4 separate regions of the Homo sapiens genome follow, and regions 1, 2 and 3 are each reported to be linked to region 4. The links are microRNA targets in miRTarBase. Many come from high-throughput screens and were not tested one by one. Region 4 holds a microRNA gene; each other region holds the end of a gene's coding sequence.

What was found. Region 4 holds the annotated microRNA hsa-miR-1827 (UGAGGCAGUAGAUUGAAU, at 3,803-3,820, shown strand). A microRNA usually pairs through its seed, bases 2 to 8, with sites in the 3' UTR of a target mRNA and lowers its output. Matches are read on the target gene's strand: a 7mer-m8 pairs with bases 2 to 8, a 7mer-A1 pairs with bases 2 to 7 and ends in A, and an 8mer does both.
Region 1: the mRNA of SNRPD1 is a reported target of hsa-miR-1827. Seed matches in the 3' UTR shown: 7mer-A1 at 4,693-4,699, 7mer-m8 at 4,413-4,419, 8mer at 4,386-4,393, 7mer-m8 at 2,999-3,005 and 8mer at 2,972-2,979.
Region 2: the mRNA of CENPN is a reported target of hsa-miR-1827. Seed matches in the 3' UTR shown: 7mer-m8 at 5,212-5,218, 8mer at 5,185-5,192 and 8mer at 4,129-4,136.
Region 3: miRTarBase lists HIRIP3 as a target of hsa-miR-1827. Seed matches in the 3' UTR shown: 7mer-m8 at 5,821-5,827 and 7mer-m8 at 5,757-5,763.

The regions. Positions count from the first base shown.
Region 1 is chr18:21,628,329-21,635,939 of GRCh38, reverse strand. SNRPD1 (small nuclear ribonucleoprotein D1 polypeptide) reads right to left here. Exons shown (of 4, transcript NM_006938.4): 4 at 2,420-6,878. The coding sequence ends at 6,802. Among named protein-coding and RNA genes, the nearest start is that of SNRPD1, 20 kb to the right of the region's middle.
Region 2 is chr16:81,027,878-81,034,877 of GRCh38, reverse strand. It overlaps CENPN (centromere protein N), which reads right to left. Exons shown (of 11, transcript NM_001100624.3): 10 at 6,581-6,707; 11 at 3,393-6,309. The coding sequence ends at 6,227. It overlaps CENPN-AS1 (CENPN antisense RNA 1), which reads left to right. Exons shown (of 4, transcript XR_007065134.1): 2 at 1-123. Among named protein-coding and RNA genes, the nearest start is that of ATMIN, 4.5 kb to the left of the region's middle.
Region 3 is chr16:29,987,107-29,994,717 of GRCh38, forward strand. HIRIP3 (HIRA interacting protein 3) reads right to left here. Exons shown (of 7, transcript NM_003609.5): 4 at 6,800-7,611; 5 at 6,534-6,702; 6 at 6,353-6,451; 7 at 5,224-6,264. The coding sequence ends at 6,101. It overlaps TAOK2 (TAO kinase 2), which reads left to right. Exons shown (of 16, transcript NM_016151.4): 16 at 1-1,287. The coding sequence ends at 874. Among named protein-coding and RNA genes, the nearest start is that of HIRIP3, 4.7 kb to the right of the region's middle. RefSeq lists enhancers at 3,726-4,313, 6,001-6,501, 6,502-7,002.
Region 4 is chr12:100,186,130-100,193,740 of GRCh38, forward strand. MIR1827 (microRNA 1827) reads left to right here and starts at 3,755; the gene lies at 3,755-3,820.

The DNA of each region.
Region 1 (7,611 bases), not on the chromosome of region 4:
ATTACCCAAAGGTCAGTCTGTACTGACCTTTGTATGAAGCCATAATGGAGCCAGGCGTGGTGGCTCACACCTATAATCCCAGTACTTTGGGAGGCCAAGGTGGGCGAGGTCAGGTGTTCCAGACCAGCCTGGCCAAGATGGTGAAACCTCGTCTCTACTAAAAGTACAAAAATTGGCCGGGCGCAGTGGCTCACACCTGTAATCCCAGCACTTTGGAAGGCCAAGGTGGGCGGATCACGAGGTCAGGAGATCGAGACCATCCTGGCTAACATGGTGAAACCCCATCTTTACTAAAAATACAAAAAACTAGCCGGGTATGGTGACAGGTGCCTGTAGTCCCAGCTACTCGGGAGGCTGAGGCAGGAGAATGGCGTGAACCCGGGATGCAGAGCTTGCAGTGAGCCAAGATCGCACCACTGCACTCCAGCCTGGGCAACAGAGTGAGACTCCGTCTCGGAAAAAAAAAAAAAAAGTACAAAATTAGCAGGGCATGTGACACACACTTGTAGTCCCAGCTACTAGGGAGGCTGAAATGGGAGAACTGCTTGAACCCGGGAGGCAGAGATTGCAGTGAGCTGAGATCATGCCATTGCACTCCAGCCTAGGCAACAGAGTGAGACTCCGTCTAAAAAAAAAAAGAAAAAAAGAAAAAAAAAAAAAGAGAGAGGAAGAGGAAGGAAGGGAGGGAGGGAGGGAGACACATAATGGAGAATACAAAAGGAAGAAAAGAAGAAAAGATTTCTACCCTAAAAATATTAAAATCGGCTGGAGACAAACTGAACAAGACAGCAAGACTTAAGGATATATGCTGAATAGCATTTGAGTAGTACAGAACAGCTTAGCACAGAGAAAACCCACACAAAGGGAAGCCATCAGTGACTGTGACAGGGAGTGAAGGAGGGCAACTGGGGAATACATCCTAGGAGGTAGGAAAAGCACAGAGCCCGTGCATCCTCCAGACACCAGTGGCTTATTGTGGCCCTTGGGCAAATAAGTTCCACCTCTGTCAGCTTCAGTTTGCTCAACTTGAAAACAGAAGGCAAGGACTAGATGGTCTGTAATGTCTTTCAGCTATAATGATACAGGATTCTTAAGGACAAACACAGAGAACTTGGGAAGGTGAGGATGTTACAGGAAGAGGAAAGACAAGCACAAAGCCACAGAAGTAGGAAAACACTAGTTGTGCATAGGCAGCGTGTGTTGTGGGATGGCAAAGACCCTAAACAAGCCTGTTTAACTGTTCTTTTTTTTTTTGAGACATTTAAAATGGCCCCCAGGTTTAGTGCTGTCGTGTTCCTAAATTCAAGAAGGCTATGATGTGCCTTTTTGAGAAAATAAGTGTTAGATAAGCTTTGTTCATGGATGAGTTAGTGCTGCTAGCCATGAATTAACAAATCAGTAGTATATATGTATTACATATACTACTATATATGTCTCTAAACAGAAACACTCATAAAACAAGGTTATGTATTGGTTGGTTGATGAAAATGTGACTAGAGGCTTGCAGGAACTTAACCCTATATTTTCCCTAGAAGTAGTGGTTTAGTATTAACAGCAACTTTACACAACTACTGAAAATTCCAAGAATTGACTGCACTGGGTATCTACAGCCTTGCTATTATTACTATTTTCTTCATAAACTGAATCTCACTGTATATTAACATTTCTCAAAATATATGGAATACGTAAACAAAACCCTAAAACTTCACTGAGAAGAAAAGCTGGTTCAGATAGAGAACACTACTATGTTCCCACACAGAAAGAACTTAGTATTACAAAGTTTATCAGCCGGGTGTGGTGGCTCACGCCTGTAATCCCAGCACTTTGGGAGGCTGAGGCAGACGGATCACGAGGTCAGGAGATCGAGACCATCCTGGCTAACACGGTGAAACCCCGTCTCTACTAAAACTACAAAAAATTAGCCAGGCGTGGTGGTGGGTGCCTGTAGTCCCAGCTACTCGGGAGGCTGAGGCAGGAGAATGGCATGAACCCGGGAGGTGGAGCTTGCAGTGGACTGAGATTGCACCACTACACTCCAGCCTGGGTGACAGAGCAAGACTACGTCTCAAAAAAAAAAAATTTATCTTCCTTTTCAAAAGTACTCCTATTGGCTGGGCGCAGTGGCTCACACCTGTAATCTCAGCACTTTGGAAGCCTGAGGCAGGCAGATCGCTTGAGGTCTGGCATTAGAGACCAGCCTGGCCAAAATGGTGAAACCCTGTCTCTACTAAAAATACAAAGATTAGCTGGGTGTGGTGGTGCATGCCTGTAATCCCAGCTACTCGGGAGGCTGAGGCACGAGAATTGCTTGAACCCGGGACACAGAGGTTGCAGTGAGCCAAGATCGCACCACTGTACTCCAGCCTTGATGAAGGAGTGAGACTGTCTCAAAAAAAAAGAAAAGAAAAAAAAACGAAAAGAAAGTACTCCTCTTTATTTCACAGATCCACAAGAATTTCACATTAATAAAGGCCAGTATCAGATATACTTTTAATGCCTTTAGAAAATGTCTGCTGTTGGTTTATTATGACAGAGATTCTTCTTGTTATGGAGTTATTTTCTAGGTTAAGTCTTCAGGAACAAGAACTGTATGTTATTAAATGTTATATGTATGATATCTATTATAGGTAATACATGAATTGTTTGCTGACTACATTAATCTATTTCAAAATACTAAGTTATGCTCACATAATTATGATAGATTAAAAGAAACTGATATTTCATTTTCTATTCCTTCACTTTGGGTTTTCTATCTATATTCATAATACATTTCTTTAAAAACTAATGTTCGGCCGGACGCGGTGGCTCACGCCTGTAATCCCAGCACTTTGGGAGGCCGAGGCGGGCGAATCACGAGGTCAGGAGATTCAGACCATCCTGGCTAACACAGTGAAACCCCGTCTCTACTAAAAGTACAAAACATTAGCCGGGCATAGTGGTGGGCACCTGTAGTCTCAGCTACTCAGGAGGCTGAGGCAGGAGAATGGCGTGAACCCGGGAGGCAGAGTTTGCAGTGAGCCGAGATTGCACCACTGCACTCCAGCCTGGGTGACAGAGCTAGACTCTGTCTCAAAAAAAAAAAAAGAAAAGAAAAGAAAAGAAAAGAAAAGAAAAAAAACTAAAGTTCATATGTAACATCTCATTAAATATCAGATGTGTACAAAATGCTGCAGTCCTAAGATCCCATCTGCCTTTTAGGGGGTGGTGAAGAGGGGTCAAGAGAAGCATGTTAAACTCTAGTCTGTTTTCTATTCATACTATAATGCTTCCTTTATAGCAAATGATGGTAATCAGTTCAAATAGCTTTTTCTTCACCCAATTTTAGCCCTTTCACATGGAAATGAAATAATGACCTCTAGTGGAATAAACTCAATCTAGTACCCACTGTGATTTATTATTACATTTAAACTGTTACTAGACTGGCTTCACACTGCAAACATCCTAGACACAAAAACTCTCAAAACAAATTTTTTTTTTTTTTTTGAAACAGTCTCGCTCTGTCACTCAGGCTGAAGTGCAGTGGTGTGATCTCAGCTCACTGCAACCTCTGCCTCCAGGGTTCAAGTGATTCTCCTGCCTAAGCCTCCTGAGTAACTGAGATTACAGGCACCCGCCACCACACCAAGCTAATTTTTGTATTTTCAGTAGACAGGGTTTCACCATGTTACCCAGGCTGGTCTCGAACTCCTGACCTCAAGTGATTCGCCCATCTCGGCCTCCCAAAGTGCTGAGGTCACAGGCATGAGCCACCATGCCAGGACAAAACGTAATTTTAGATCTCTTATGCTAAGTGGCCATTTTCATTTAAATTTTAAATTTAAGAGCCAGGTCTCACTAGGTTACCCAGGCTGCTTGCAATCATAGCACGCTACAGCTTCAAATTCCCAGGCTATAGCGATCCTCTTGCCTTAGCCTCCCCAGTAGCAGGGACTACAAGTGTGCACCACGGCACTAAGCTCCAATTTTTATTTGTTATCTGCTTCTGTCTATAAGCTCCACGAGGACAGGAGCCAACTGTTTATTTCCTACTCTTGCAGGGTTTTGTTTGACCCCTTCAACAAATCTCTCCACTTGCTGCATTACAGGGGTCTCTTGCCTTTTGCCTTCTACTTGGATACAAGCAATAGGAGCACCAACAGGTCAGAAGATGGAAAAGAATGAAATCCAGTTATTTATTCCCCCAGCTTATTAATTAATGAAAGGTATAGGCCGGGGACGCACGGTGGCTCACGCCTGTAATCCCAGCACATTGGGAGGCCTCGTGCAGATCATGAGGTCAGGAGAACGAGACCATCCTAACACAGTGAAACCCCGTCTCTACTAAAAAGACAAAAAATTAGCTGGGTGTGGTGGCAGGCACCTGTAGTCCCAGCTACTCGGGAGGCTGAGGCAGGAGAATGGCCTGAACCCGGGAGGCAGAGCTTGCAGTGAGCCAAGATCGCGCCACTGTACTCCAGCCTGGGCAACAGAGCAAGACTGTCTCCAGAAAAAAAAAAAAAAAAAAAAAAAAAACGTGTGGAGAAAAATTACATATTGGTTGTATCTTGTCAAGCCAACTCACCTTTAATATATTTACTATTAAAGAATTGTCTTAAGTCTGGCCAACATGGTGAAACCCCGTCTCTACTAAAAATACAAAAAAATTAGCTGGGTGTGGTGGCGCACGCTTATAATCCCAGCTACTCTGGAGGCTGAGGCACAATAATCTCTTGAACCCGGGACGCAGAGGTTGCAGTGAGCCAAGATCGCACCACTGCACTCCAGCCTGGGTGACACAGCAAGACTCTGTCTCAAAAGAAAGAAAGAAAAAATTGTCTTAATCATCATGAATTTCATACATCCCTTTTTGGATCATAGAACCTGTAATACAACTGGGTGACCACTGCCAATAATTTGTGGGGGAAAAAACGCTAATTACTATATAACTTCAATGACTTACAAAAAAAAATTATCAACTGTGGAAAAATCAAAAAGCATTTGAATTTACTTGATGAGGTAAGATACTTAAAAAAATATATATCTAGTATTTATTTATACCAATATATACATTTATATATCTAATATATATGACAGGTACATTCTACATGTATACTAATATATCTATTAGTATATATTTATATATTAGTATAAATACATATATATATAAATACATATATATATCTCTCTCTCGATTTTTTTTTGAGACGTAGTCTCACTCCATCGCCCAGGCTGGAGTGCAGTGGCACAATCTCGGCTCACTGCAACCTCCGCCTCCTGGGTTCAAGCAATTCTCCTGCCTCGGCCTCATGAGTAGCTGGGATTACAGGCGCCTGTCACTGCACCTGGCTAACTTTTGTATTTTTAGTAGAAATGGGGTTTCACCCTCTTGGCCAAGCTGGTCTTCAACTCCTGACCTCGTGATCCACCTGCCTCGGCCTCCCAAAGTGCTGGGATTACAGGCGTGAGCCACCACACCCAGGCTAAACTTTTTTAAGGTAACGATCTTTGCAGAAAATTTCTTTACTTAAAAAAAAAAAAACTCACATACATGATGAAAATACAGATTTAAGCCACCCACATCCTCAGTTGTTTTCCTTAGCATATAAATACTTCGTAGTAAGCTTTACAAAGAACTGATGCACTGAGAGACATTTTTTCTGAGCTTAGCAAATCAAAAACAATTTTTAAAAGTCCTTATTAACAATTAGAACAGTTTTGCTGTCAAATAAAGTAGGTCTTTTCTCTTTTATTCTCAAAGAACCCCTTAATAAAGGAGGCACTGACAGGTACATTACACATTAATAGGAGATTTTAACACTGCTCATAACTGATAATCTAGTGACCATTAACTCCAAGTTATAACTTGGAAAACATAAAACTATATCCTATTAAGAACTGATTAAAAAGCAAAAGAAACAAAAGTAAGACATTAGCAGCTAGACAACAAAGCAATGACCCTTAATTTAGAAGACAACTTTTTACCAGGTACCTAAGACTCCGTGGAGTAAAACTCAGGAAAGGAGAATCAATTCTAGACCCCATCCCATAAGGACTTTAGTTTCCGAAATACCAAAACAAACTTCTTACTTCCCCTGTGGGTAGGTGCCACAGAATGAAGAGTAAAGCAATAAAATGCATATTCAGTGCATGTGAAGTAGAAGGGTATATATCCTATATATATTGTTAAGTTTAGCCTAAAGTCTCTTTACATATCTCAAGTTCAGCTTAAAGGTTTCTCAGTACATAGAACTGTAGCCTAACTGGACGTGTAAACAGACGGTACCCTACTCTTGTGGCAATCACTAAGTTTCAGCCAACCAAAGACAGCGAACTGTTCAAACCATATTCAAATAAGGCAAACGCTGAACTGTAACTAATCCGGCTGTTGCTGTATCTCACTTCCATTTTCCATACATCACTTTCCTTCTGTCCATAAATCTTCAACTATGCAGCTGGGCTGAAGCCTCTGAGCCTATTATGGTTCAGGGGCTACCTGATTTGTGAATTGTCCTTTGCTCAATTAAACTCTGCCAAATTTAATTTGTCTAAGGCTTTTATTTTAACCTTATTCATCATAAAAAGAAAAAGAAAAATTTTAGTTCAAAAACTTAAAACCTGATCAACTAAAAATGAAACTGCCCAGTAGAAATGCTTAGCTCTCACTGTGGTAATTTCGTGAATGTGGAGGAAACTACTAAAACTTTGATATACTAAATAGACAGCTCTGTCCCACATTTATGTTTATTAAAAACTGACATAAACAAACACAACCTGTACAAAAAATATCCCAAATCTCATATGACTTTGAAATCTTGAGAGACATTATCGCCTAGGACCCCCTCTTCCTCTGCCACGGCCACGTCCTCTTCCTCTTCCTCTTCCTCTGCCTCTTCCTGCAACTGAAGGAAAAGAAAAACAAACCAAGTTCAATTCTCTCCTGCACCAATGTTACCTAGACACCACAAACAACATTTACACACACACCTTTCCCTGTTTATAGCTCTTTATTAGTAGCTACAGTAAATAAAGTTTAACTAGCTTCTGTTAAATGTGTTAGACTTCAGATTCCCTCCACCCCCCAACACATTATCATGCAGAACCAATAACTAAAGGCCTAGGGAGATTATTATTTGTTTCATTTCAATTTATTTACTAAGAAATGTGTCAAATTTAAAAATACTTTTTCTTTATATCATGTCTCAAATTCACCATAAAATGATTTGAACCTCACAAAAAAAGGGAAGATATATATCACAGAATAAAACATGATCACCTTGATGCCAGAGTTTTGGTAACTGAATAAAATCCAAGCAAGTTAATTCAAAACCAGGAAAGTTTAAATGTATTACATCAAATCACAATCTTATTAACTCTTCAGAAAATTAAAACTCATTTGACCTACACATAATCTAGTGCTTTAATCCAAATAGTAATATCCCTACTGGGTCATCCTAACTCTAGTTGAGTATCATGGTGATAGGGAATTCATGACCCAAATAAACTTATTTCATCTTCAGACAGCTAAGAATATTAGAAAATCTTGACATAGAAGTCAGTCACATTCTAAATGTTTTTGTTTTTGTTTTTTAAATACAGGGTCTCACTCTGTAGTCCCATCTGGAGTGTAATTAC
Region 2 (7,000 bases), not on the chromosome of region 4:
GCAGGGCTGTATTCCTTCCCAAGGCTCCAGGGGAGAATCTGTTCACTTGCCTTTCCCAGCTTCTAGAGGTTGCCTACATTCCTTGGCTTGCGGACCCTTCCTCCATCTCCAGAATCAGTAACGGTGAGTTGAGTCTTCGTCACATCACATCACTCTGATTTCTTCAGTAGTGATCCCTCTGATTCTTCTATTCTTGAGGCCCCCTGTGATGACATTGGGCCCATTCAAATCATCCAGGATAATTTCTCCAACTGCCAAGTCCCTTTGCCTTGCAAGATAACTGTGATAATGTGAAGTATATATTTGGTCTTTGTCCTGGCATGCAATTCCTAAAATCCTTGGAATCAGCAAATTGGTGTTTTTTTGTATGCTAATTAGTTGACTGATGACTCACAGTCCCTAGGTAGCTTTAGGATGGGACTGGTCACTGGAAAGACCAAGGTAGGATTAGAGGCTTGAGACTTTCAGCCCTCCCCCTCAACCTCTGGGGAGGAGACAGGGGCTGAAGCTTAAGCTGATCAATCATTCCTAGGTAATGAAGCCTCCATAAAATCCCAAAAGAAATGGGTTTGGAGAACTTCCAGATAGCTGAATGCATGGAGTTTCCTGGAGGGAGGCGCACTCAAAGAGGGCATGCGTGGAAGCTCTTGCCCTATGCATCTTTTCATCTGAATCCTTTGTAACATCCCTTGTAAGAAGTCAGTCTATGTGTCTTCCTGAGTTCTGTGAGCTGCCCTAGCAAATTAATTGAACATGAAGAGAGGGTTGTGGGAAATGCAATTTATAGCTGGTTAGTCAGAAGCGCAGGTGAAACAACCTGGGGCTGGCAACTGGCCTCAGAAGTGGGTGGCAGTTTTGTGGGACTGAGCCCTTAACCTATGGGGTCTGATGATATCGCCAGGTAGTTAGTGTTGGAATTGAACTGGAGCATACCCAGCTGGTATCTGCTGTAGAACTGATTGCTTATGTCAACCAAGAAGAGGTGAAAGGGCCAGGCATGGTGGCTCACGCCTGTAATCCCAGCACTTTGGGTGGCCGAGGCAGGGCGGATCACGAGGTCAAGAGATCGAGACCATCCTGGCCAACATGGTGAAACTCTGTCTCTACTAAAAATACAAAAATTAGCCGGGTGTGGTGCGCACGCCTGTAATCCCAGCTACTCAGGAGGCTGAGGCAGGAGAATCGCTTGAACCCAGGAGACGGAGGTTGTGGTGAGCCAAGATCGCACCACTGTACTCCAGCCTGGTGACAGAGCAAGACTGTCTCAAAAAAAAAAAAAAAAAAAAGAAGAGGTGAAAGACCACACTGCAAAGCAGTAAGACAAGGCATTTTTTTTTAATTAAAAAAAAAAAAAAGAAAAGAGACAGGGTCTCGCCATTTTGGCCAGCTTGGGGTCAAGTGATCCACCTGCCTCGGCCTCCGAAAGTGCTGGGATTATAGATGCAAGTTACCACGTCCAGCCAAACAAGGCATTTTGATTGGGGTCTTAGAAATTACAATTTGGGAGACACAGATTCACCTAGAAGCCAAATGGGGTTCTGAAAAGAGGGAGAGAAGTAGATGTTTTTAAAAGAAAGCAGAGGGTTAATACACAAATTGTTTTGAAAGAATTATCATTGGTGGAGGTGGCTGGCTTAGTACATGAATCCATAGTTGATTGGTTGCCGCTGTTCAGGAGTTGTAGCACTGGTGAAATTCAGTTTTCCAGGATGTAGTGGTTATTGCAGTTTTGGCCCAGTTCAAAGCTTCAAGGCAAGTTCATATTTTTTGTTTTTGTGTTTTGCAAGTTGCAGATTGTGCAGGCAGTCCTTCTTAGAATGGCTTCCCAACTCCATTTTAGAGCTCTGAACCAAAGTGATGCCATTTTGTGTATCACTTTTCACATTTTCCTTTTTTGATCAAGATCCGAGGCAGCATAGCTGATTAATCATTGGTTGGTTGGCCACAGATTAGTTATCTGTTCCCCTTAGAGCTAGAAGCACCTGTGTCTAGAGTGTTATGTCCCACAAAAAGTGGTTGTCAAGTCAGTGCACATCCAAGCTTCCAAGATTGGTCAAATTTGAGTAACAAAGGGTCCATTTTAACAAGGAGGCCTGCATTAGTCTATAGCAGTTAGCTGTATATCAGGAGAGACATACATTTGATTAACCATTTAAATGTCTAAATGTTGTGACATCATGATTTTAACATCTTGGATACAATGGGACAAACAGAAGGTACAAGTCCTTCTGCCAGCTGCTCGGGTCCTGGGTCCCTTGACTGTGGCTTCCAGAATAGCAGAGCAGCTTTTGGATCCTGCAAACAAGTGCTAAAAAAAAAAAAACACTGAAAATCAACTGATAAAAGACGGATTAATAGGAGAAAAGACATACAAGTTTTATTAACGTGCCTGGTGGGGAGGGGAGGCATCAGAGTGATGATTCCCCAACCCCCAATGGGGTGTGGACGCTTATATACCCTTTTTCATAGGAGAGTAAGGAGATGGGGAACGTGTGTAATTCTTCTGAGGAGCAGTAAATTATTATAAGGGAGAGTAAATGGACCAGGGAGACAGAAATTAACTTGTAAATGATTCTCTTTGGAATCTGAATGAGCCTGAGGGGCAGGCCTTATGAAAAGGTCCATCCATATGTGGCTCTATTCCTCAGTCTTCATTTTTTGATAGATAATGAGATTTGAAGGACAGAATAGAAGGCAACTGTGTTTCTTTTAGTAAGAAGCTTTCTTAGTCAGACAAGGAAATTCCAGAGGGAGTTCCTCTCTGCCCTTGGTTGAGGCAAGAATAAGACAAGGTTGGAGGGACCTTGACTCTCAAGTGTATTTCTCAGGCCTTTCCATTTTCAAAAGCATCCAGCATGCCAAAGTACCATCATTTTCTGTGCCTCAATATTCCCTAGTCTGAAATTTCCCTAGTAGTTTCACAAATGAAACAGTGAGTTGGCCATGAAGAGAAAAATCAAGTTAAATAGAATTTTGGCTGGGCACTGAGGCTCACACCTGTAATCCCAGCACTTTGGGAGGCCGAGGCGGCAGGATCACTTGAGGTCAGGAGTTTGAGACCAGTCTGACCAACATGGTGAAACCCTGTCTCTACTAAAAATACAAAAATTAGCTGGGCATGGTGGCACGTGCCTGTAATCCCAGCTACTGGACAGCTGGCAACCAAGGACGTTGGATAAAGAACCTCAACCAAGGTAGGGGGTTAAGGAATGAGACAACTCGTAAACAGAATCCGTGGCCATGGGAGAGGTGTGGAACACAAGGGGTTCCTCCTGCAGGAACTGTGCTCGAATCCGTGGCCGCACCAGAACAAAGAAGGGAGTTGCTTTTTTGTCCCACTCAATTCTGACACCATTTAATGTCATCCAAGGGGCAAAAGACCACACTGCAAAGCAGCAAGACAAGGTGTTTTTATTGAGGTCTTAGGAATTGCAATTTGGGAGACAGATTCAGCTAGAAGCCACTTGTGTTCTGAAGAGAGAGGGTAGAGGAGGGGTTTTTAAAAAAAGCTGAGGGTGATTAGACAAGTTGACAAGTTGTTTTGAAAGAGGCAACTGGCTTAGTACAAAAATCCATAGTTTATTGGTTGGTGCTGTTGAGGAGTTGTAGTGCTGGTGAAATAAAATTTTCCAGGATGCAGTGGTCATCGCAATTTGGCCCAATTCAAAGGTTCAAGGTAAGCTCCTGTATTGTTTTTTTTTTGGAGCTTTTAATTTTTTTTCAAGTTGCAGGTCATGTAGGGAGTCCTTTTTAGAATGGCTTCCTCCCTCCATTTTAGAGCTCTGAACCAAAGTGATGTCATTTATTTTATTTTATTTATTTATTTTTTAAGATGGAGTCTCACTCTGTCACCTAGGCTGGAGTGCAGTGGTGCAGTCTCGGCTCACTGCAACCTATGTCTCCCGGGTTCAAGCGATTCTCCTGCCTCAGCCTCCTAAGTAGCTGGGATTACAGGTGCACACCACCAGGCCCAGCTAATTTTTGTATTTTTAGTAGAGTCGGGGTTCACCTTCACCATGTTGCTAAGGCTAGTCTCAAACTCTTGACCTTGTGACCCACCTGCCTTGGCCTCTGAAAGTGCTGGGATTATAGGCGTGAGCCACCATGCCTGGCCTTTATTTTATTTTTTGAGGCAGAGTTTCACTCTGTCACCCAGGCTAGAGTGCAGTGGCATGATCTTGGCTCACTGCAACCTCTGCCTCCCCGGTTCAACCAGTTCTCCTGCCTCAGCCTCTCGAATAGCTGGGATTACAGGCGGCTGCCACTACCCCCAACTAATTTTTCTATTTTTAGTAGAGACAAGGTTTTGCCATGTTGGCTAGGCTGGTCTCGAACTCCTGACCTCGGGTGATCTGCCCACCTCGGCTTCCCAAAGTGCTAGGATTACAGGCGTGAGCCACTACACCCGGCCCAGAGTGAAGTCATTTTTCTATATCATGTTTCACACTTGCTTAATGTGTGGGGGAAACCCCCTCCCCCACATATCTGGTATCAGAAGTGTGAGAGTACACTAGGAGAAACCTCCTGAAGTGCTGGGATTACAAGTGTGAGCCACCATGCCCAGTCTAATGTGTTTCTGTAACTCCAAATCCTCTCTGAAACAAGATAAAGAATAGATTTTAAAATGTTTAAAAAAGACATGCTGGCGGGCGTGGTAGCTCATGCCTGTGATATGGTTTGGCTGTGTCTCCACACAAGTGTCACCTTGAATTGTAATAACCCCCATGTGACAAGGGCAGGGCCAGGTGGAGATACTTGAGTCATGGGAACGATTTCCCCCATACTATTCTCATGGTAGTGAATAAGTTTCATGAGCTCTGGTGGTTTTATAAATGGGAGTTTCCCTGCACAAGCTCTCTTGCCTGCCGCCATGTAAGACATGACTTTGCTTCTCATTTGCCTTCCACCATGATTGTGAGGCCTCCCTGGCCACGTGGAAATGTGCGTCAGTTAAGCCTCTTTCCTTTGTGAATTACCCAGTCTTAGGTATCTTTATTAGCAGCATGAGAATAGACTAATACACTCCTATAATCCCAGCATTTTAGGAGGCTAAAATGGGCAGATTGCTTGAGCCCAGGAGTTTGAGATCAGCCTGGGCAACATGGAGAAACCCTGTCTCTACTAAAAATACAAAAATTAGCTGGGCATGGTGGTGCAGGCCTGTAGTCCCAGCTACTCAGAGGCTGAGGCAGGAGAATCTCTTCAACCCAGGAGGCAGAGGTTGCAGGGAGCCAAGATTGTGCCATTGCACTCCAGCCTGGGCGATAGAAGGAGACTTGTCTCAAAAAACAAAAAACAAACAAAAAAAAAATTAGCTGGGCAGGATGGAGCGCGTCTGTAATCCCAGCTATTCGGGAGGCTGAGGTGGAAGGATCACTTGAGCCTGGGAGGTCCAGGCTGCAGTGAGCCATGATCATGCCACTGCACTCCAGCTTGGGTGACACAGTGAGACCCTGTCTCAATAAATAAATAAAGAAATAAAAAATTAGAAAGGAAAAAATTTTTAAAAAGATAGGGTATTTAGTGATGATCACTGAAGTACTTTGATCAAAATTAACTGATGTGCCAGTTTTTTGACACCTTTATTCATAAGTCAATATATTTGTCAGTTTGAATGTTATACACATGATAAAATAGATTATGAGAAGTATCATATTTACAATAAGAACACTATTTTATATAACTGACTCACCAAATATGCAACCTCTTGCAACAATAACAGAATGGACTCAACTCCATCCTTTGAATAGACCAATTTCATGATTCTCCTAAAAAGTTTTGAGTTGAGTATAGTTCCTTGTTGCTTCTCTCTGTGATCCAGAGCTTAAGAATCAATCCCTGGAAACCAGCCACTGGAACCAGACCTCTCCAGAATTGAGAAGAGACAGCCATAGAAAAAAGGACACAAACCCAAAAGTCTTGAGCGCTGTGCCATATGCTTGATTTCAGAGCATTCAGGCACTCAAGGTCAAGTGTGGGGCCATATATATATATGTCCTGTCATCTCAAATGCCACAACGGCTACAGTTAGCAGGATATCAGAGAGAGGAGGCATATCGTGGAGGAATGAATCAGTCCCAACAATTATGTGAGCATTTCTAAAAATTCAATACCAAGGATTCTTGAAAATACAAGTTTACAGACGGAAGCTATACAGCTAGCCATGAACTGAAGTGCATGTGCAATATCAAGAAGGAGGAGCTGTGCTTAAGAAACCACGCACGTCTTATTTATCTCTAATTTTAAAATAATTCATTCTCTTGTTGGGTATGCAAGTGAGCAGTGGAGAAAGTGGAGCATCTGCAATACCTGAAATTAAAAAAAAAAAAAAGGGAAAAAGAAAATTAAAAGTCATCACAGGAGGATGGATTTGAGTCAGTTTAAAAATGGCTGAGATTAGAGGGTGGATCATAGATGCCCCTCCTCCCTATTAAGTACAGAAGCAGAAGATGCAAGAGAGAGCAGGATGGGCTAGCAGACTAGGGTGATGGGTGAGCTCAGAAGTAATTAGCAGATTATAAGGATGGAATGGAGGCATGTTGTTAATTTTTCTAGCTTATAGAGTAAGCTGACCACTCACCCGCTGGTGCTAAGGATTTCAATGCTTCCAGAAGATGTGGGCTAGAGAACTTTATTAGGCATCGGAGGGGTTCTTCCCTCTCAGCCAAGATGCTCCCATTTAAACCACTTTTGAATTTCGTTTCAAGCTGTCAACAAACATTTATAAATGACTATTAAACATATTGTATAAATACGAATGGTAAAATATAATGAAATCATAATGATACGTTTCATTAATTCTTGCCATTAAGAAATACAGGAATTAACAGGGGTGGGGACCATTTAATCTGCTAACTGCAAACATAGAGGGCAGGTCGGGCAAAGTGGCTCATGCCTGTAATCTCAGCACTTTGGGAAGCCAAGGCGAGTGGATCACTTGAGGTTAGGAGTTTGAGACCAGCCTGGCCAACATGGTGAAACCCCGTCTTAACTAAAAATA
Region 3 (7,611 bases), not on the chromosome of region 4:
ACTCCTGTCCCATGGCCTCCTGGCCGGCCTCTCCTTTGCAGTGGGGTCCTCCTCTGGCCTCCTGCCCCTCCTGCTGCTGCTGCTGCTTCCATTGCTGGCAGCCCAGGGTGGGGGTGGCCTGCAGGCAGCGCTGCTGGCCCTTGAGGTGGGGCTGGTGGGTCTGGGGGCCTCCTACCTGCTCCTTTGTACAGCCCTGCACCTGCCCTCCAGTCTTTTCCTACTCCTGGCCCAGGGTACCGCACTGGGGGCCGTCCTGGGCCTGAGCTGGCGCCGAGGCCTCATGGGTGTTCCCCTGGGCCTTGGAGCTGCCTGGCTCTTAGCTTGGCCAGGCCTAGCTCTACCTCTGGTGGCTATGGCAGCGGGGGGCAGATGGGTGCGGCAGCAGGGCCCCCGGGTGCGCCGGGGCATATCTCGACTCTGGTTGCGGGTTCTGCTGCGCCTGTCACCCATGGCCTTCCGGGCCCTGCAGGGCTGTGGGGCTGTGGGGGACCGGGGTCTGTTTGCACTGTACCCCAAAACCAACAAGGATGGCTTCCGCAGCCGCCTGCCCGTCCCTGGGCCCCGGCGGCGTAATCCCCGCACCACCCAACACCCATTAGCTCTGTTGGCAAGGGTCTGGGTCCTGTGCAAGGGCTGGAACTGGCGTCTGGCACGGGCCAGCCAGGGTTTAGCATCCCACTTGCCCCCGTGGGCCATCCACACACTGGCCAGCTGGGGCCTGCTTCGGGGTGAACGGCCCACCCGAATCCCCCGGCTACTACCACGCAGCCAGCGCCAGCTAGGGCCCCCTGCCTCCCGCCAGCCACTGCCAGGGACTCTAGCCGGGCGGAGGTCACGCACCCGCCAGTCCCGGGCCCTGCCCCCCTGGAGGTAGCTGACTCCAGCCCTTCCAGCCCAAATCTAGAGCATTGAGCACTTTATCTCCCACGACTCAGTGAAGTTTCTCCAGTCCCTAGTCCTCTCTTTTCACCCACCTTCCTCAGTTTGCTCACTTACCCCAGGCCCAGCCCTTCGGACCTCTAGACAGGCAGCCTCCTCAGCTGTGGAGTCCAGCAGTCACTCTGTGTTCTCCTGGCGCTCCTCCCCTAAGTTATTGCTGTTCGCCCGCTGTGTGTGCTCATCCTCACCCTCATTGACTCAGGCCTGGGGCCAGGGGTGGTGGAGGGTGGGAAGAGTCATGTTTTTTTTCTCCTCTTTGATTTTGTTTTTCTGTCTCCCTTCCAACCTGTCCCCTTCCCCCCACCAAAAAAAGAAAAAGACAAACACAAATAAAATATCTGAGCGGAACTGTGCCTTTGGCCCAGGCTGCCTCTGTCTGCTTTGTCCTGCCGCCTAGCCTCCCCGGTATGCCCCCAGGCTGACCCTCGGCCCGGCTCCATGACCTCTTCACCCCATCTCCGTTATCTCAGCCCCCTCACTCCTCCAGCCTCATGCTCTCTGCCTTCATAGCTTCATTGCACCATGACCACCACCGGCTCTGGGGTCTGGGCCCCTGTAGAACTTCACCGAACTTCTTGGTCCCACAGAGCGCCTGTTTGCGGGTTCCTTCCAGAGGTCTTAGTTTCCAGGCCCTTGGTCTCCTCATCCCTTGCCTTTTCTCCCAACCATGGCTGCAGGGGACCAAATTGCTCTCCTGCATCAGGCATTACCCTAGTGGGTTGGGGGACGGGGCTGCAGACCCTCCACAGTAGGGGGTGCTGAGCTGGGGGCAACCAGGCGGAGTATGAAGGCTGTGGCAGCAGGATTGAGTGTGGGCCTGGAGTGGGAGCTGAGTGTGTGAGGGGCCGGGCTGGAATGCGGATCTGGTCAGGGTGGTAGCTGCTGGCCGGTTGAACTTGTCAGGCCCTTTCTGGCCACCTCCTTTGCCCCTTTCTCCTCTGCGGCCCAAAATGGGGCAGCCCCTTCTTACCCATTTCTCAGCTCGGTGCTTCTCCTCCTTCCCTGCCTTCCTCCCTGAGCTGCTGGACCTGGGACTTCCTGTGTCTGTCCTTAGTCGTGTTGCTTTCTTCATGGGTGTTTTGTGTGACTGGTTCTTCTCGCTTGTTCTCGTGCACGTTCTCATATTTGCTCACGTGCTTCTGTCTCTAGGTCACAGTCTCTCCCTCTTTGCCTGGTCAGAGCTTCCAAGATCCTCAGTTCCCTGTCCAGTAACTCCGATGTTCTTTCTCGTGGGTATCGCACCCAACTCCGTGCACGTGCTCTTGGAACCTCTTGTCTTCTCTGCATCTCTTGCCCATCGAGACCTTCCTGATCTCTCTCAACACGATCCCACCTCTCCATGTCTGTCTGTCTGTATACAGCTCCCCCCACCCCCTCTGTCTAACATGTTTTCTGTTTCTCTCCCTCTCCCTGTCTCTGCTTCTGTCTCCTCTCCTCTTCTCTCTCTTCTCCCCATTTCCCCTGGTTGTTCCTCCTCTTCCTCTTCCTCCTCTTCCTCCTCCTCTTCCCCGCTGCCCCCATCTCCCCTTGATCCGTCCACTGCATAGTCTAAGGAGCTGCAGATCAAGAAGCAGTTCCAGGAGACGTGTAAGATCCAGACTCGGCAGTACAAGGCTCTGCGAGCACACTTGCTGGAGACCACGCCCAAAGCTCAGCACAAGAGCCTCCTTAAGCGGCTCAAGGAAGAGCAGACCCGCAAGCTGGCGATCTTGGCGGAGCAGTATGACCAGTCCATCTCAGAGATGCTCAGCTCACAGGCGGTGAGGCCTGGGGTCCAGGGAGGGAGTGCGCTAGAGGCCAGGCTCTGTACTTTGCTTTAGAGAAATGGACGGTGCAGGGCATGCACAGAGCTGGGGCTTTTTTACTTGGGAAACTCACATACTCTCCCTCTGTTCGTGTTCTCCACAATGATTTATTTCATATTCTCCTCAGTGGTTTTATTCTTTCTCTTAGTATTTTCTTAAGGTCTTGACAAAGCCATGTGCCTATTCCCAAGAACCACCAAGGAAAAGAGTGGCTATTATTTTTTTCCTGGGCCTGAGTTAGTTTAATGGGTAAACAGGGTGCAGATTAAAGTGAGTGTGGCCCTCAAGCCCATTTACTCAGACTTCTGGAGGATTTTGAAAGTTGCTGTTCTAAAAAAATGATCACACCTAACACTGGAATGGGCCACTTAAAATGTGCGGAGAGGGTGGAGAGTGGAAACGCCCCACCCAAGGCTGTTCTCTCACCCAGTCCCACCTCTCCCAGGTAACTTGTTAATAATTAACTGTATTTTGTGTTTTTTCAGTGCACATTTTGAAAAATTATATGAATTTTAAACACAGATGGAATCATACTTTACATTTACTTTCTGTAACTTCTTTTTTCCACTTAATATTTCTTGGACATCTTCCCCTGTCAGTACACCTGTCTCATTTTTTTTACAGCATAGAATTTTCCATGGTATGGCTGTACCATAATTTATTTAACCCATCCCTTATTGGTGGACATTTAGGTTGTTTCCAGTATTTTGCTATCACAACGCTTCCGTGAACACCTCGAGCACATGTGCAAGTATACCTGGGGGATAGATTCTGCAGTGTAATTGCTGTGCCACAGGGTATGACCATCTTCCATTCTGATAGATGTTGAGACCGCTGCTTCTTGAAACCTTAGGGCCCAGGCCTACCTGGGGCAGGGGAGGATAGTGGGGGTGGGGGAGGAGATCCCTACAACTGGTTGTTCATCTTCCCCAGCTGCGGCTTGATGAGACCCAGGAGGCAGAGTTCCAGGCCCTTCGGCAGCAGCTTCAACAGGAGCTGGAGCTGCTCAACGCTTACCAGAGCAAGATCAAGATCCGCACAGAGAGCCAGCACGAGAGGGAGCTGCGGGAGCTGGAGCAGAGGGTCGCGCTGCGGCGGGCACTGCTGGAGCAGCGGGTAAGGGGCCCAGCCTCCAGGACTGGGGAGGGAGGGTGGGCTCCTGCCCCCGACTCTAACCTCTGTTCCGGATGCCCCAGGTGGAAGAGGAGCTGCTGGCCCTGCAGACAGGACGCTCCGAGCGAATCCGCAGTCTGCTTGAGCGGCAGGCCCGTGAGATCGAGGCCTTCGATGCGGAAAGCATGAGGCTGGGCTTCTCCAGCATGGCTCTGGGGGGCATCCCGGCTGAAGCTGCTGCCCAGGGCTATCCTGCTCCACCCCCTGCCCCAGCCTGGCCCTCCCGTCCCGTTCCCCGTTCTGGGGCACACTGGAGCCATGGCCCTCCTCCACCAGGCATGCCCCCTCCAGCCTGGCGTCAGCCGTCTCTGCTGGCTCCCCCAGGCCCCCCAAACTGGCTGGGGCCCCCCACACAAAGTGGGACACCCCGTGGCGGAGCCCTGCTGCTGCTAAGAAACAGCCCCCAGCCCCTGCGGCGGGCAGCCTCGGGGGGCAGTGGCAGTGAGAATGTGGGCCCCCCTGCTGCCGCGGTGCCCGGGCCCCTGAGCCGCAGCACCAGTGTCGCTTCCCACATCCTCAATGGTTCTTCCCACTTCTATTCCTGAGGTGCAGCGGGGAGGAGCAGATGAGCTGGGCAGGGCAGGGGTGGGTGGAGCCTGACCCTGGAGGGCACTGAGCTGGAGGCCCCTGCAAGGGTAGGGGACAAGATGTAGGCTCCAGCTCCCCTCAGACCTCCTCATCTCATGAGCTTCTTGGGGCTGGCCAGTGGCCCAGGGCCAGCTTGGCGATAGGTGCCTCAAGGCTGCCTGGGAGCCCCGCCTCCCTACCATGGTGCCAGGGGTCTCCCTCCGCCACCTAGGAAAGGAGGGAGATGTGCGTGTCAAATATTCATCTAGTCCCCTGGGGGAGGGGAAGGGTGGGTCTAGACATACTATATTCAGAGAACTATACTACCCTCACAGTGAGGCCCTCAGACCTGCCACAGGGCAGAGCAGGTCTGGGGCCTGAGGCAGGGAGAATGAGAGGCCACCTTACTGGCAGGAAGGATCAGGATGGGGTCTTGGGGTCAGGATGCCTGGGTCTCTTCCCGTAACTGTCTGACGTCCTGTGCCGTCTTGTCCTTTATCTTTTTTTTTTTTTTTTTAATTGGGATCAGGGCTGGGGCGGGGAAACAAGGGAAGGACCTTGGAAGGGGCTGCTCCCAGGCCTGGGGGGCAGTCGTGGGAGCCCCTCTCAGCTGTGGGGCTGGCACAGAGCCCCAGGCAAGCTTTTAATAAACTGTTGGTTATTCTAACAGATCTCAGGACTCACCCTTCTGTCTTTGGTGTGCGTGAAGGACTGCTCAGTGGCCACTGAATAGTACTGCTTGTGTTTTATAAAGAGAATTTATTGGGCTGTGTATCTAAACATTTCAGTGATTTTAATGACTTTAGGTGTGACCAGATCTCGGATCTCAAAGGTGGTCTTCAACCCCTTGACCTCTAATTCGTTTTCTTTGCTTTGACTTCAAAGATTCTTAGGTTTGCCTCCCACACAGACCCCAGGCAGCTCCATGCTCACGAATCTTCCCGCAAGCCTCAGCAGCCAGAGTTCAGTGGAGACCTCATGTGACTGCAGAGGCTGGGCCTGTAGCCAGAGGCCTAGAGGGCTAGGACTGGCCCAGGAGGTATGGGCTTTTCCCCACCCCTTTGAGGCTAACAGCCCATGGACAAAGTGGCTGTTTGCATAAGGGAGAAGGCTTAAGCACTGGCTGCCCTCAAGTCATTCTATCCCTCTCCCAAGTGGGCATTAGGTTATCAGACTAGGCTAAAAGCAGAGGGGCCACGGGGTAGGCGGGCAGCACAGGAGCCACACACCCTTCTCCAAAAGGGTCTGGTGGCTGTTGGATGACAGGGTCTGGAGGCAGGGACTTCTTCCAGGAACCCGGGGGAAATTAAAGGGAACCAGGCCAGGGGAGGAGGTGGAGGCAGTGACTACTGCTCAGTTTCCTGGCCCAAAATACAGGAGGTGAGAATGGGGGACCAAATTTGATGAGGTGATTAAAAACACTCCTTTATTGAGTCTTAAAAAATAAACACCTTAAAGGGACAGCGTGAAGCTGAGAAGTAGCATCCCAACAGCTTGTGTCCTTGGGAGCTGCAGTCTTCTCTGAAGGAAGCTGCTTCTGTTCCACAGACACAGGGCAAGGGGTGCTATGTATGCTTTGTACATGTATCAAGGGTCCCTCCTGGGGGTGGCAGAGCTCAGTTACTCTCGCCATCACTGCTGATGATGCCACGCATATGTGACCAGTCTGGGGGTGCGGGACGGGGCCGCTCTTCATCTGAGTCCAGGGTCCGTCGGTACAGCTCCCCTGGGGGTGCTGCTTCTCCTAAAGGGTTCCAGGCTGTACGTCTGCGTGGCCGGCCTAGGGGAAAGGGGAAACGAGAGATCAGATGTCTGAGAAGGTCCAACCCCACCTATCTGCTCCTGGGCAGTGAGAGGAAACCCCTTACCCGAGCCACTGATGATGTTCGCAACATCCAAGGAGGCCACCTCAGCTGCCTCCTCCCTCTGCTCCTTCAGGGCCCGACACTTCCCTAGGGAAGGGGTACCTGGGGCAGAAGAAGCTGGTGATTCTCTCCTCCCCAGCAGGAAGGCCCTCTCCTGCAGCCCCCAGGGCACGCCGGGCCTCACCCTTCATGCCTAGCGCTTCCAGTTCTGCCCGGAGGATACTCAGGCGCTCCTTGTGTGAGCAACAGGAGCCCAACAGCTTCTTGTAGTTTCGATGGGCACCACAGGCCCGAATGTAGCGCTTCAGCCTCATCACAGCCGGGTGGTCCTCTCCACGGCGACCTGAGCCAGCCTAGCAAGGAAAGAGCAGCTGAAGGCCAAGCCTGCTGGGCCTGAGGCAGGGTCTCCCTCTTCCCTAATAGTGGCCTCCCACCCCTCCTCACCCTCACCTTCCCTCCTTTGGCCTCTGGACTTCCATCTGAGGAGGAAGAGGAGCTTCGTGTCCTGCCTTTCCTGGAGCTCTTCTTGGAAGAGCGGTTCTTCCTCTCCCCCTGGGGGCCTCCCCCTGCCTCGCTGTCACTTACCTCCCTCTCCAAGTCACTTTCCTCACCACTGGTGCTGCCCAGTCTGGCCATCTTTCTAGAGCCTTTAGCTGTGGGTTCCCCCTTCCCACTGTCTTCCTCGTCCTCGCTGCTTCCACTCAACCTCTTCCCACCCTTAAGCTGGGTCCTGTCCTCACTCTTCCTCTGCACTGGGGGTTCTCTATCTCTCCCACTGTCATCCCCACTGCTGGCTGCCTCTTTCTGCTCTTCCTCGCTGTCTGAGTCTCCCAAGAGCCTCTTTGCCTGGCTTTTCTGCTTACAGCTCCTCTCCTCCCTAGCTGACTTTCTCCGGCCATTGCTCCTGGTTCTGGGTTTCCAATCCCCCTTTTCCTCATCCTCTTCTTTCTCTTCCTCCTCCACTTCCTCCTCTCTCTGCTCTTTCTTCTGGGCTAGGATCTCCTCTTCACTCTCCTGTTCACTTTCCTTCAGGCTTTTAGTTCCTTTATTTCCCTCCACCTTCTTTGCTGTCCTCTGAACGGGTTCTGCCTCGCTCTCCTCACTTTCTTCCCTGGCCTGCTTCCTACTGACTGAGGCCTTGCCTGGTGCCTGCTTCTTTACCACAGGTTTCTTCCTAGTCTTCCCCTTGTACCCCTTTTCCTCCTCCTCACTGCTCTCCTCTCCCCTCTGTGCGGGCAGGTCCCTCTGCCGTTCCTCATCAC
Region 4 (7,611 bases):
TAACCAGCCAGAATTTACGAGTTGACAGAATTGTTGGGAAATGTTCCATCAAATCTCTTCCGAGTTAACTCCTCCACAAACTGCCTGCACAGCCACATTTTAGGCAACACCACAACCTCTTCAGCAGTGGGATGACATGGCAGAGGCAGAGGGTTTGCACTTGCCAGGACTTCGTGTACGGGAGGGAGGTAGGCTACCACTGCTGCCAGCTCCCTCCCTCCCTCCAGACTACAAGCCCTGTTGAGGGAAACAAAGGTTGGGGGTCCAGGGAGGAGGTTGTTGGGGGAGTTTCCTCTGTAGCCATCCCAATAAAGTTGACTCAGTATTTCCTCCTCCACAAATTAATTCCTCAAATATATTCTCACAAGGACAGAGATATATATATATATATATACATATATACACACACAAGGATACCACAAAAATGCTATTTGAAATGACAAAAAAAAGTAGAAACAAGCAGATGTCTGTGGCTAGGAAACTGGTTAAATTAGGGCGCATTCATATAACTGAACTCTGTTAGAACAAGAGCTCTAATAAAGACTAACAAGTTAAGACATTCCAGATAAGTGCCTATATAATGCCCCAGTTCAAAGGGGCATGGCAAGTGGCCCTACACTCCCCGCCATTGCTAACCCCTCCTGACTCACCTGCAGGTAAGAGCACAGCTTTGGCATAAGTGGGCCTCATGACATGGTAAATATAGAGAAACTGTGTTTGAAGGAAGAGTGAGTGGAATTCTAAGTCACTGAAATAGCTATACACTAAAACAGTGGATACTGCATGATCCCTCTGTGTAGATCACATATACACCGAGCAAATTTCAGGGTGCATACATAACCAATTTCAGTTCTAGTGGTGACTTCTGGGAAGTGGACTTAGAAGGACTTTCACTTTTAACTGTGCACCCCTCAGCAATGGCTGATTTTTCTTTTTATACACATGCATGACTTTTACAATGAAGTACAAACACACAACTAAGAAGGCAGGCCAAATGGGGAATCTATCAGGTGGCAGGCCTGCAAGCCAGAGGTCATTTGCTATGGTTTGAACGTCCCCTCCAAAACTCATGTTGAAATGTAATTGTCACTGTGATAGTATTAAGAGGTGGAACCATTAAGAGGTGATTAGGCCATGAAGGCTCAGTCCTCACGAATGGATTAACGCTGTTATCTCAGGAGTGGGCCTAGATTCAACTGCAGAAGAGGAGATGGCAATGTGGCCAGGGAAGCAGAGATTACAGCAAGCCAGCCATAGACCAAGCAATGCCAGCAGCCACCAGAAGCTGGAAGAGGCCCGGAACCGACTTTGCCCTGGAGCCTCCAAAGAAACCAGTCCTGTCGACACCTGAACTTAGGCCTAGTGAAGCTGATTTTGAACTTCTGGCCTCCCAAACTATCAGAGAATTAATATGTGTTGTTTTAAAACATCAAGTTTATGGTAACTTGTTACAGCAGCCAGAGCAAATTAATACAATCACTCTCTAAAAAGCTATTGCCCTTCAAACCAAGGACTTTGAGAGGCTGCTTTCTGCTGTGGTCCAGGCTTCAGCTGGCATTCAAGTTTGGAGCATTAATGTCCAAAGTTAGAATATATTTACTTCTGATATGATGTCTTTTGATCCTGAGGATCTGGGAGGGTGTCATCAGAAAGACCCTTTCCAAAATACTCTAGACATTTACCTGGACAGATGAGTACATCATCCTTCCAATTCTAACACATTAGAGCAAACACCTAATAAAACGTGCACAGCCTCAAATAAACCAAACATCTAAGAAACAATACTCTTGTTGTAGAACTTTCAGACAGGTACAGCTCCACTGGTTCCCTACTGCCCAAAGGGCAGACACCCCCACCCCTTCACCCTGGGCTCCCTGGCCTCCTCAGCTCCTCTTCTATCCTCACCCCCTTAAGCACCCTATGCACCTGGCATGAGAACCCATGCCACTTGTGAGACACACCCTGTTCTGACTTCCTTGCCTCTGCATGGGTGTCCTTGAACTTACATTTCCCTTTGGCCAGTCCCTCTCCATCGCTCAAGCCCTTTAAGTCAAAACTCGTCTTCAGAGCAAAACCATCACTAGCCTCTCCCAAAACCCACACCGCAAAGAATAAGCCATTTCTTCCTGGTGCACCCAGGGAGGCTGTGACATGCTGGGTTCAGCCTTGAACTGCACCCTACGGCACCTGTGGCAGAGGACTCACAGGCCTTGCCTGCCTGTCTTCCTGAGAACCCTTCAAACTGCTGAAGGCAGGGAGGGACAGCCTCTTACCCAAGGGAACAACCTCAGCCCCATCCCACAGTGAGGGGGAGAGGAAAATGCAGCAGGGAGGGAGGGAGCACCAGCTGCACAGCCAGGCAGTCCTGCAGAATGGGCTTCTCTAAACTTGAGTGGTGACCCACTGTGGGCCAGGATATCAAATTAAGAAGATAAGAAGTCAATTTTGAGGGGACAAGCATTTTTTTTAGTATTAAAAGAGAAAATAGTACTTAGCTTTACTATATGTAGCAGTGACATTTTTCTTTCAGTTTTATGTACATACTGACAGTATACATTTACATACAAAGGTGTATTATCTGCTGTCGGTTCCCAGTCAAAAAAGTGAACAACACTGTGTCCGAAGGTAACATCCTTCCCAGTGTCCAGAATTGGTTCCTTCTGGTGGGTTCTTAGTCTCGCCAACTTCAAGAATGAAGCTGCAGACCTTTGCGGTGAGTGTTGCAGCTCTTAAAGGTGGCACGGACCCAAAGAGTGAGCAGCAGTAAGATTTATGATGAAGAGCGAAAGAACAAAGGTTCCACAGCATGGAAGGGGACCCGAGCAGGTTGCCGCTGCTGGGTGGGGTGGCCAGCTTTTATTCCCTCATTTGTCCCTGCCCACATCCTGCTCATTGGTCCATTTTACAGAGCGCTGATTGGTCCATTTTACAGAGTGCTGATTGATCCATTTTACAGAGTACTGATTGGTGTGTTTACAATCCTTTAGCTGGACACAGAGCACTGATTGGTGCGTTTTTACAGAGTGCTGATTGGTGCATTTACAATCCTTTAGCTAGACACAGCGCTGACTGGTGTGTTTACAATCCTCTAGCTAGACAGAAAAGTTCTCCAAGTCCCCACTCGACCCAGGAAGTCCAGCTGGCTTCACCTCCCACCAGGAGGCCAAACAAAAAGGACAGTGCTGAGAGGAACCATCGTCCTGCTAGGGAAGGGAGTGTGGCACAAAGGCAGGTGGGTGTGGGCAGACCCCCCCTGCCACGGGTGTGCAGGGCAGAGGATGATGAGCCCCAAGCAGCAGGAGCAGGAGCAGTAGAGCAACTCTGCCCCTGAAAGGGTCTGGAGCCTTCCCTCATCACTCTTCCTCAAGTCGATGCTGGACACCCACTATGTACCAGGCCGTGTGAGGCACTGGGGTAAACCAGAGACAAGACAGACAGGGTCCCTGCCCCATGGAGCTCCCAGCCTTGCAAGGGAGCTAGACCACAGATGAGTACACAAAGAAATACAGTAACTACAGGCAGTGGTAAGGGCTGTGAAGGAGAAGCACGGCAGTGAGGAATGGGAGGAACAGGGAAGGCTTCTCTGAAGAACGAACAGAAGTAACCAGAGAAGAGACAGCCCGCCCTGCAAAGGGACAGCCTGAGGCAGGGCCTGTCGGGAAGACAATACATCTGAAGAACTGCAAGAAGTCAAGTGGGCCTGCAACAGAGGAAATGACAGGAGTCAGACCCCATGGGACCCTGAAGGCCATGTTCAGCAGCACAGCCTTCAGCCTAAAGCAATGAGAAGCCTCTGAAAGGCTGAGGCAGTAGATTGAATTGATTCAGGTCCCTTAGAATTGGGTCCCTGCAACAGGTGGACCCAGGACCGGCAGAGAATGCAGATAGGCGCCCCTCCTCAGCCCCCAACTCTAAATATAACAGAAGACATGGCTCAGTTGCTCCCTTGGTGGCCCTGGACAAGACAGGCTGAAGTTCTCTGAGCCTCCGCTTCCCATGCTGAGTCATGGTGAAAGGTCTCTGAGTCTACAGGCCAAAGCCACTGCTCCTCTCATGACTGCAGTGATTTCCATGGACAGTGTTATGCAACGGCGGCCCTTCTGATACGTGGGGCCCTGGGAGCGTGTGAACTGATCGAGACCAAGAGGACTGATGGGACACAACTGCTAAGCACAACCTCATGCTCCTGGGAGCTATCAAAGAAGACCAGGCACCAATGCAGCAACACACACACACAGCCCAGCCAACTTCCCGCAACTGCTGAAACTCCACGGGCCCAAAAGCAAGTCGCCTTCCTTCCTGCTTCCTTCTCTAGAAGGTCTGGCTTTAAAAATGTCACTGTGAGGCAGCAGCATGGTGACTACATGCCTTGTCTTTCTTGGCAGACAGAGCCATGCCTTCCAACGAGGAAAATTACAAATACCACGTTATGGCTCCTGGACAGGAACAACTTCTCCCAATTCACCAAACATCTGTGTGCCTGCTTTGAGCTGGTTTGCGCCCTCTGCTGCAAACAGGGGCTGAAGAGACGAGTCACTGTCACGACTTTAGAGTCCTAGACACTAAAACCATAATAGATTCTTGGGAACCCCCGCCGTGCTCACAGATAACTCTTTCTACCAGGCCTGAGTGGGTCAAGAATGAAGCAAAAACTAAGAGTCAGAGCAGGGCCAACTGCAGGGCCCGCAGAAGACCTGTGGGAGGGAGGCCTGGAAGGAAGAGCACACCTTCCCGGCCAGCTCAGCCCTCACAACTGCCCTTGAGAAAGGCACCCTGTCCACTCCACCCAAGGGAGTGGAGACACACTTCACCTACTGGCTCAAAAGAGTCAGAGGGGCAACAGTGGCAGCAATGCCAGCAGGCCTGGGGTGTGTAGCCACCATTTACAGAGCACTTACAATCAGTCAGGCAGTGTGCTAGGCATTTCTTATTTGTAACCTTAACAACACTCTCACTGATCCAGAGAGGGAGAGGTTTACACACACACACACACACACACACACACACACACACACACACACTCCAAGAGGATATGAGGGCTTAAAGCTTGGGTTAGGCAATAAGCATCTGGCATCCTCTAAGCATGAAAGGCACAGTAGTGAACTATACTGACAAAATCTCCTCCTAGGAGGTGATGCTCTAGTAGGACACAACAGCAGATGCTCAAAGACTAGATCAGGGAGCAAAACCATCCTGAATCTCTAGCCGACTGAGGGCCCCCTGTGCTGGCTGGTGAGCTACTGCCTACTGGACAATCATGAAAGCCACAGTCTCCCTAGGGATCCTCTCAGCTCCTTGCCCCTCAGATGGTCTCACACAACCGAGTGCTCAGGATGTTTACTGAACTGAGCACTTTAGGCAGAGTATTTCACAGAACACTAGTTAGAAGCCACTAATTAGTCACGACTACCTAGTTTACCATTTCCACAATACATTCATTCTGTGAAAGTAAACGAAACCCAGCTGAGGGCTAGCCTGATACGATATAGGTAAACACCCAATCAAATATCATTAAGACCCCACTACATAAATACCAGAACTGAAAATTGCTAATGAAAATGCCCTTCCCTCTCCCAGTCTGAGATACAATGGCAGGGTCCTTTTCTTTCTTTAGAGGAAGGGGTTGTTACTGTCTATATTTTGTTCTGACTGGAGGTGGGAAGTCTGCACCCCAGTGCCTCAAAGGTAAAAGCGTCTGACCAAGGACACCTGTCTACCCTCATCAGATGCCTCAGTGAGGTGGGAGCTGGTACACCTCCACCCCGAATGCATCTGACCCCTCCTTTCATTTCTCAAGAAATTGTTATCTCCATGGTGGAAGGAAACTGGCAATGTGCATACAAGCAAAGCAAGTGCAGCAGGAGAGAAGTCAATGCTAAGGGCCATTAGGAATCCTTCAGGAAAGGAAGTCCACCGGGGTGGGGCTGGCCCCAGCCACACATACCTGCCAAAGTGAGCTTCATCCATCACAGCACCCCCAACTCAGAAACAATTAAGAAGCAACTGCTCCAAATAGGTTCAGCTTTGCATTTATCTACTTTTAAATGTTTGCCAGTACATAACATATAAATACTTCAACCCTTCATACACAAACAAGATAATCCTCCAACCTAGTTAAATAAAAATACTAGGCATGACTAAACCATCATCAGTGCCACGGTCTGAATGTCTGTGTCCCCACAAAATTCCTATGTTGAGACCTAGTCCCCAAGATAATAGTAGTAAGAGTGAAGCCTTGTGGGAAGTGATTAAGTCATGAGGGCAGACCCCTCTGGAATGAGATCAGGGTCCTTATAGAAGAGGCCAGAGTGGTAAAAGGGATTTCAGGAGAAAAATACACTTAGCTAGGTAGCTAGATACATACATACATATATATGTATACATACATGGATATATACACACATATATATGTATACATAGATGGAGGCCCCAGAGGGAACTTGTCTGTCCCTTCTGCTGTGAGAACACCGCTACAAGGCATCATCTCTAAAACAGAGAGTGAGCCCCCACCAGACACCAAATCTGCTGCTGTCTTCATCTTGGACTTCCCAGCCTCCAGAACTATGAGAAATAAATTTCTGTTGTTCATAAGCTACCTTGTCTATGGTATTTTATCACAGCAGCCCAAATAAACAAAGGCAATCAATTTGGGAGAAGAAGAAGAAAGAAAAGAAACGATTTGTCAAACTCTGCTTAAAACTCTTCACTGACTCCATAGCTCTTAGGACAAAGACCAAAATCCTGCCCTGACCCAAGCCCTGCCTCTTCCAAAGGCTATGTCCCCTTCACCCCTAGCTGCCACCAGGCACTCCTTGAGTCCCACATGCAAACAGCACCCCCACCTAAAGGCCTCTGTTTATGCCACTTCCTCTCCCTAGAACACTTTACTCCCCCTCTCCACGCCCCCCAGTCAACACCAACTCGTCCTTTGTGTCTCAGCTGGAATGTCGCTTCTTCAGGAAAGTCTTTCCTAGCCCTCCCCAACCCCTAAACCACATCAAGATCCTGAACTATACATGTACTGCCTCTCTTTCCTTTCAAACTTCCTAGCACTGGTTGGTGTTTGTTATATTTTATTAATATCTGTTCCCTGGATACTGACAGCTCCACAAGGACAGGGACTATCTTGTCCAGTCATATCCCTAGTGCCTAATCACACACAGTGAGTGAGTGAGTGGGAAGCTCCTGAGGCCTTCCTAGAACGCAAGTCAGTGAACTACAGCCTGGAGTCATTTCCAGCCTCTGCCTATTTCTGTACAATCTACAAGCCAAGAATGGTTTTAACATTTTTATTTTGCTATTTTGTTTTTTTGAAACAAAAAACAGCCTGTCACCCAGGCTGGAGTACAGTGGTGAGAACACAGCTCACTGCAATCTCTACCTCTTGGGCTCAAGCAATCCTGCCTCAGCCTCCCAAGTAGCTGGGACTACAGACATTTGCTACCACATCTGGCCAGTTTTAAAATTTTTATAGAGATGGGGTCTCACTTTGTTGCCCAGGTTGGTCTTGAACTCTTGGGCTCAAGTGATCCTCCCACTTTGGCCTCCCAAAGTGCTGGGAGGAGTACCGGAGTGAGCCACTGTGCCCAGCTAACATTTTTAAATGGCTGA